2 linked regions of the Homo sapiens genome follow. The protein of the gene in region 1 interacts with the protein of each later gene in a pairwise test. Each region holds a gene or a part of one and is shown on either strand. Other genes may lie near its edges.

Region 1 (3,439 bases):
GGAATCTTCACTAGAAGCCGTGGGAAGAATTGGAAGTTACATGCTGTATATGCAATGTCCAGCAGTCTGATAAACTGACGATTCTTAATCAAGATTTTTTTCCTGATGGGGAAGGGACTTTTATTTTCTTTTAGAGAGGGGAAAGTGTGAGCTCTTCCCTTATTCCTAATGGCTATTTTTGAAGCAAAGAAGGCCAGCAACATTGGCACATGCCACCTGGCAAAGGACCCTTGAGTAAGTGAAGGTCTCCTAAAACTGGGATTAAGAAACCTTGCTCTCCTCATCTCCAAGGCAGGGACCATCAAGAACCTACAGACTCCATCTCTTCTGCAAGCCTCATGCCAACCCTGGGCTATTGCTGCTGCCCCTTAAACACAGGCTGTCCTTAACCCACCTCTCCTGCCCTGTGATATGTCTGCTGAGTTGGCCTGGCCATTTCCAAGAGGCTGTAGAAAGGGGAGAATGTCAAGGAAGACTTTTGGTAGAGAAGGAGCAGAAAGATGTGTTTTTGGGAAGAAGAAGACCTCTAGGAGGAGCTAGTAGGAATGTACATGAAGCAATTAGTCTGAAACTGGCTTCCCCACTCCCCCGTTTCTCCTTTTCCTATCCTTATAGGCCTGTCCCTTGCCTCTGCCCTGGATTGGTTGGCAAACTAAAGGACTTGATGTACATAACTCCTGTCCCTTTTCCCTTACAAGGTGGGGATTGCCCCTGGCTTTGCCTCTTCTTTGTGCCTTTGGCCTGGGGTGCATCTCCTCCCGCCCTTCCATGTGCCTTTCTTTGCCTCTGCAGTCTCATTTCTCATAATTTTGCAAATTATATTTTGTTGCTTTCTTACCTACTATTGGCCCTAAATAGCAGAAAGAAGAGAAGTGACCGAGAGAACCTCAGATTCTTCATTGAGGATTGGTATAGCCATGATTTCAGTCATAGCAAGCTTTTGCTCAACAGCATATGGGTGGGATTTTGCAAAAATCCTATTCTGATGAATCTCAAAGTAAGGCTGGTAAGAGAAGTGAGTGGTGTGACTCTTACTCCTTAGGTGCCCAGAATTTACCATCATCTCTGAAGGAGTTACAGGGAAGTGGTCTCCCCAATTCTCCCCTCCCTCCAGTATTGCCCCCTCTCACTTTAGCATATATTAATTAGCAGGTTGGGCTAGAGAAATCAGCTGCTATGCGGGTTGATTATTATTATTATTTCTAATCCTTTTCCTTATTTGCCTTCTACTCCCCTTAATCTAATCTAAAAGCTCTGTTCCATGCAACTGGAGTTCCTTATCCCTCTCTTCCCCTTCCCTTATATATTGAGGCTATGGGGTAGGAGAAAAGTGCACAACCCACCACCCCCTTTACTCGTGCATTAAAATTTCTTATTTACCCTTTTCCCCCTTCCCATTTCTTCCCACTTTCATCTACCTTTTCTGGCAAAAAGGAGCCTTTTGCTCTCTGTGACCCTAAGAGCACACTGCACAGGGAAAATTGCCCCATCCAGACCTGGCTCCACTCTTGATCTCTCTTGTCCTCTTCTGCTCTTTTCCTGGTGCTCTTTTTTCTCGGTGGGGTGTGGGTAATAGAACAGCCGTGGGCTTTTGGGGACCTTTAACTTTTTTTTCTCTCTTTTGTTTATAAAAAACACTAAACATTCAATTCCAGAGAACCAAAAATCCCACCTTCCCACCGAACACTACTAAGGGGCTTGTGTTCTGCTCCATACCTTTTCTCTTTTCTTTCTGTCTTGTTAATGCTTTTAAAAACAAATGAGTTTTTTATATAAATAAAGTTTTTAAAGTGTGTATGTGGGGGGTCTGTGTCATTTCTTCACTTCAAGCTGTTATTTCTTCCCTGCTTTGCATCTTTGTTACTTCCTTATGTATCAGTGTCCTTTCCAGAGCAACCAGAAGGAGGTTATACCAGGATTTATTTTGAGCTCAGCCCCAACTCTTTATCAAGCAACATTCTTGTTAACTATATGTGAAACATTTTTTCTTCTGAAGATTCTTAAAAATTGAATGTGGCTGAAGTTGAACATGGGAGCTTATTGCTAATTTAGAGATAGGAAACTGAAGCATAAAGAATTAATGACTTACTTTAATTACTGGAATTCTTCTGCAACATTTGACAAAACTAACCTTGAATAAGGCCCACTGTAATACGTAGCTCTCTTAAATATAACACTTAGGACTAGAAGATTAGAAACTACCAATCCCAACTACGTAATAGGAAAATGTAGGATCAAAAGGCCCATGTATATAAGTACTGACCACTGGGCCATAATGTTGCTTCTCAGGCTATATGCAGTCCTTTAGTCAGAAGTCAATAGGCCTATTTATTAATATTTTACAGACCATATTACCTGGATTACCAGGGACTATCTTTGCTGCAGAGATCAAGGGTTAAGATCTATGGGAAGATACTTATTTTTCTGAGGTCCTTATGTCCTGTCATATAATTAAAGACTCAAGAGAATTTATGTGAAATGCTTTCTGTATGCCCAAATCTTTAGATTAAAATTATATAGCTGCTCCTGATGATGGTCCTGTCTTGTTTTATTGAACTAGGACTTGGGTATGAAAACTTTCATGGGCTAGTGAGACCAGGAAATCAACTAGCTTTTAAAGCTTGATTTGTGTCTAACAATTGTAGTGTTAGATTAGAGGTTGAAGTACAAAGCCAAAAAGCTATTAAGAGTTTACTTTCCAAAGAGTTTTGATAGCCCTGCTTGAGATGATTTTTATCTAAATAGAAAAGCCTGGCTGCTTGTCAGCAACACTTTATTTCCCTGTTATGTTCTTATCCTTTGGCATTGAGCTAGATACAAACCCTACTCTTCTCTCTTCCTTCTGGATTGGTCCATTTGTTTATCTCATTCAATAAATATTTGCCAAGCACCTCCTATATGCTAAGCGTTGTGTCAAGGTTAGGTTTAGATTAGAGAGTGAAACAGATGGATCTTTTCTCATAGATTGCAATCCATGAGAATCCTCTATAGCTAAGATCTATGATCAGACGAGATCGTGTGCGTTCAGGGTGATATGGCCATAGACAAGATCTATGATCTTAAAAACACTTCTCTCTGTGCCATATCTAAATACAATGAGATGTTACACAGAATGATGTGTAAAGGCCCTATCTCACAAGTTTCTTGACACTGATGTACTTTGTGACAGAGGTCAAAGCTGGGACCTCACTTGGCCACTTTTTTTTTTTTAGACAGAGTCTTGCTCTGTCACTCAGGGGCACAATCTCGGCTCACTGCAACCTCAGCCTCCTGGGTTCAAGCGATTCTTCTGCCTCAGCCTCCCGAGTAGCTGGGATTACAGGTGTGTACCACCACGCCTGGCTAATTTTGTATTTTTAGTAGAGACAGGATTTCACCATGTTGGCCAGGCTGGTCTCAAACTCCTGACCTCAAGTGATCCACCCTTCTTGGCCTCCCA
Region 2 (3,819 bases), on another chromosome or scaffold:
TTGCCTCCTTTTGGCCATTAAACAAATGTGTATAGAGGGCCTGCTATGTGCCATGTGCTATGCCAGGCACTAAGGATACGGCACTGAACCCTCTTAGCACTCTCATTCCAGAGGGGATTAATCCATAAGTAGAATGGGGGTGACTGGAATAGGGCCAGCTGGGGGCTTGGAGGCATGAAGATCAGATCCTGAATCAGAACAACAGGAGAAATTCTCTGGCATTCAACTCACATCTCTGGCATTCAGAGGTGATAAAGGCTACAGCAGGGCAATAGGACTGGGACTGTCGTCTCCTTTGGCTGTGCTGTTGCCCTCTAAATGTACCCTGCTTTTTCCCACCTTTTCTTTCTCTGTTCGCCCTCACTGTGCCTTGTCCCAGCATTCTCAGACACCATCCACATTGAACCCCACAATGCCAGCCTCTGAGCGGACAGTGGCCTGGGTCTCCAACATGCCTCACCTGTCGGCTGACATCGAGAGTGCCCACATCGAGCGGGAAGAGTACAAGCTCAAGGAGTACTCAAAATCGATGGATGAGAGCCGGCTGGATAGGGTACGATGGGCTCTACCAGCTCCAAGCCCCAGTGTTTCCTTTTACCCACAGGGGAGATCTCTAGTCACTTCCAAGGGAAACCTCCAGGGTCAGTTATGGTGGTAAGAAAAGGCAAAGACCTGATCACCTCTTGAGAAGCCTTCCGTCCATCTGGGGAGACCAGATACACACAGTTGTTAAAAGTCACTTTCAACTCTATTTTGTAGGTTATATATATCATAGACTATCTGGGGATCATCTATTTTAGGCTTACCTCCATGTTCTTCCCCAGGAGGAACATAAGCCCTGGCTCCTGTGACTGCTTAGGAAAGGAAATGTTACTTTACTGGCAGTAGGAGCTAATAAATTGGATGGGGATGGAGGGGGTTGCAGCTATATTACAAGTGATGTCTGGCCTACCCAGTCACTGTCCCATGGGCATAAGTGACAGTCAGTGGGCAGGGAATGCATGTGGTAAAGTAGTATGTATCAGTCATGTGTGAAAAGACCATCCAGACCCTCACTTGGTGGAGGCTGAGGGCAAAGGGCACCAAGAGCTCTGGGGCTAACACAGATAACTTAGCAGAAAGTTACTTGAGGAAGCTGTTGTTCCTAGGGCCTGAGGAAGAGGGCGGCTGCAGGATTAGGTCATATATAAAGAACATATGATCCTAACACGGGGAAGTGGTCTTTGAGCATAGGAAATGTTGGGACTGACTCAGATGGGCTTGACCAGCAAATTTAATGAGAATTAAACCCTAATATTAGCCCCAAGGCAGCCACCGTAGGAAGTTAATTCACATCTCTCCTCTGCATGTAGAAGGGTTGGTGATATATGTATGTATCCTCTTCAGAGAATGAGGAAATAGTCTTTTGAATCATTTTTTTTTCTGTGCTTCAGATGAGGAAACCTTGTTGAGAAAGGCTGTAGACTAGCACTATCCAATATAACTTTCTGCAGTGATGAAATGTTCTGTAATCTGTAGTGTTCACATGTGTCTAGTTGTGATTCAGGAACTGAATTTTTAGATCTATTTAATTTTAATTTTGTAATTTTTTTGAGACAGGGTCTTGCTCTGTCACCCAGGCTGGAGTGCAGTGGTGCAAACATGGCTCGAGGCAACCTCCGCCTCCTGGGCTCAAGACATCCTCCCACCTCAGCCCCCTGAGTAGCTAGGACTACAGGGTCGTGCTACCATGCCTGGCTAGTTTTTTTTCTTTTCTTTTTTTTTTTTTTTTTTTTTTGTAGAGACGGGGTTTTGCCATGTTGCCCAGGCTGGTCTAGAACTTGTGAGCTCAAGTGATCTACCTGCCTCAGCCTTCCAAAGTGCTGGGATTACAGGTGTTGAGCCACTGTGCCTGGCCTAAATTTTAAATAGCTACATGTGGGCTGGTGGCTACCATATTAGACAGCACAGCTGTAGACTCTAGAGCCAATAGGGCAGATAAAATGACTCTTCTGAGCTCTTCCAGCTCTGGAATTCCTAGATTCTCAGCCTAGAATTCACTTGTAGACCTCCTATCCTTGGCACCTTGACAGAGCCAAGGAGAGGGTCACATGGAGGACAGCACCTGCCTTTCCCCCGTCAATTGCCTTTTCTTCCTATGTCTCCAGCATGTGTTCTGGGGCCTGGCTTAGGGCTGAAGAGTCACCCTATTTTTAATTTCTGAGCACAGTTACTCAAGGTGTGTTTGTGAGTGTAGGTTTCTGTGTGGGTCTTCATGAGGGGCCATACATAGACCTCAGGGTGTGGGAGTCTGTGACCTTGCTCCATTTTGAGGGAACCTCAGCACCATGGCAGGGTCTTCTCAAAAGCAGGTGTGTGGATATGATCCACAGGCAGGGAAGGGGTTGGGGAAGGCAGCTGGATGTCCCTCAACATGCAGTGGCTGTGCTTGGCAGACAGGGATGGAGGCTGGGTGGTGGGCTTGGGGTGGGGCGCCCCTCATAGTGCGGGGTCGTGTGCCCGGCGGGCAGGTGAAGGAGTACGAGGAGGAGATTCACTCACTGAAAGAGCGGCTGCACATGTCCAACCGGAAGCTGGAAGAGTATGAGCGGAGGCTGCTGTCCCAGGAAGAACAAACCAGCAAAATCCTGATGCAGTATCAGGCCCGACTGGAGCAGAGTGAGAAGAGGCTAAGGCAGCAGCAGGCAGAGAAGGATTCCCAGATCAAGAGCATCATTGGCAGGTGAGGGGCGGCCTGGGGAGGGGGTTGTGAGGGAGAGCCTGAGGCTGGAGAGAGCAAGTGGGTGAGCTACTCCGCTGACTCCCATCCCCAAACTCAGGAGCCCACCAGGAGAGCCCACCACTCTCCTCCCCAGGAAGCCACCCACTCACTCATCACCAGATGGAGAGAAACCCCAACCTGCTTAGTGCATTAAATATCTCTTTACCAAACCCTGACCTCTCTTCTGATAGAGTAGCTTCGGAAGCCCTTGGAAAATGTACCTGTTCCTGTCCAACCATCACTGCATTTGCATTTACCCTAGGCCAGAGCTCCCCACTAGTTATTCTCAACTTAACCTGTGATGTTCACTCCAAACCTAAGCAGGGCTCCCTAGCCAGAGTAGGCCCTGCCCTTCCTGGGTGGACCCTCCCTCTCTAGCCTTGGAAAGGTGTTCTGTTAGAAAGGGTCTTTTAGCCTGTGTATGTTTTCAGCTGCTCCAGCAAGTCCTGGGCTCCAAAGAGGGTATCCTCAGCAAAGAGGTCAATTATCTTCAGAGTGGTGGGGTCGGGGTGGGGGGGACCCTGGGCGCACTCCAACCAGAGCCACCTCCATTTTGATCCATTCTAAATGTATTTTATGTAAGATTTAATTAGAAGAAAAGGGCTTCTTGAAATATTTTTTGAAAACCACTGCTCTAATTGATATCCTTTATGATAAATCACCTCGAGGATCTTCACAGTGAGGTGACATGGGGGATGCAGAAGCCAGGTCCTCAGCCATGGAAGGTCTGGGGAAGGGGCACTGCTGTCCTGATTGGGACGATGGAGGCCTGGAGGTGTCTGGATGGTAGAAGTCTTTGAGGCACAGAAAGCTGCCTTAGCAGGGAGGTGTAAGGGTTCCTGGGAGGAAGGTGGAGAGCATGATCCTGAGGAACAGGGAGTCTTGCATCACGGCAATGGAGGGACTCTGATTCTAAGGGATAAGGATGCCTGAGGTTTTTCCAGAGAGCTATGGGGTTCCATGGGCAGGCTCTGAGCCTGTGCCCGCCACTAACCCCACTGAAGCCCGTCCCTTCAGGCTGATGCTGGTGGAGGAGGAGCTGCGCCGGGACCACCCCG

What was found.
Region 2: the proteins of CTNND1 (region 1) and SYNGAP1 interact in binary tests that used the Homo sapiens proteins (3 or more experiments, as listed by UniProt).

Annotation. Positions count from the first base shown.
Region 1 is NC_000011.10:57,816,651-57,820,089, forward strand, and holds the end of CTNND1 (catenin delta-1), read left to right. Parts: 3' UTR 1-2,890; downstream 2,891-3,439. UniProt on the Homo sapiens protein: Key regulator of cell-cell adhesion that associates with and regulates the cell adhesion properties of both C-, E- and N-cadherins, being critical for their surface stability.
Region 2 is NC_000006.12:33,444,065-33,447,883, forward strand, and holds part of SYNGAP1 (ras/Rap GTPase-activating protein SynGAP), read left to right. Parts: intron 1-379; coding exon 380-553; intron 554-2,510; coding exon 2,511-2,722; exon of another isoform or gene 2,723-2,734; intron 2,735-3,765; coding exon of another isoform or gene 3,766-3,778; coding exon 3,779-3,819. UniProt on the Homo sapiens protein: Major constituent of the PSD essential for postsynaptic signaling. Inhibitory regulator of the Ras-cAMP pathway.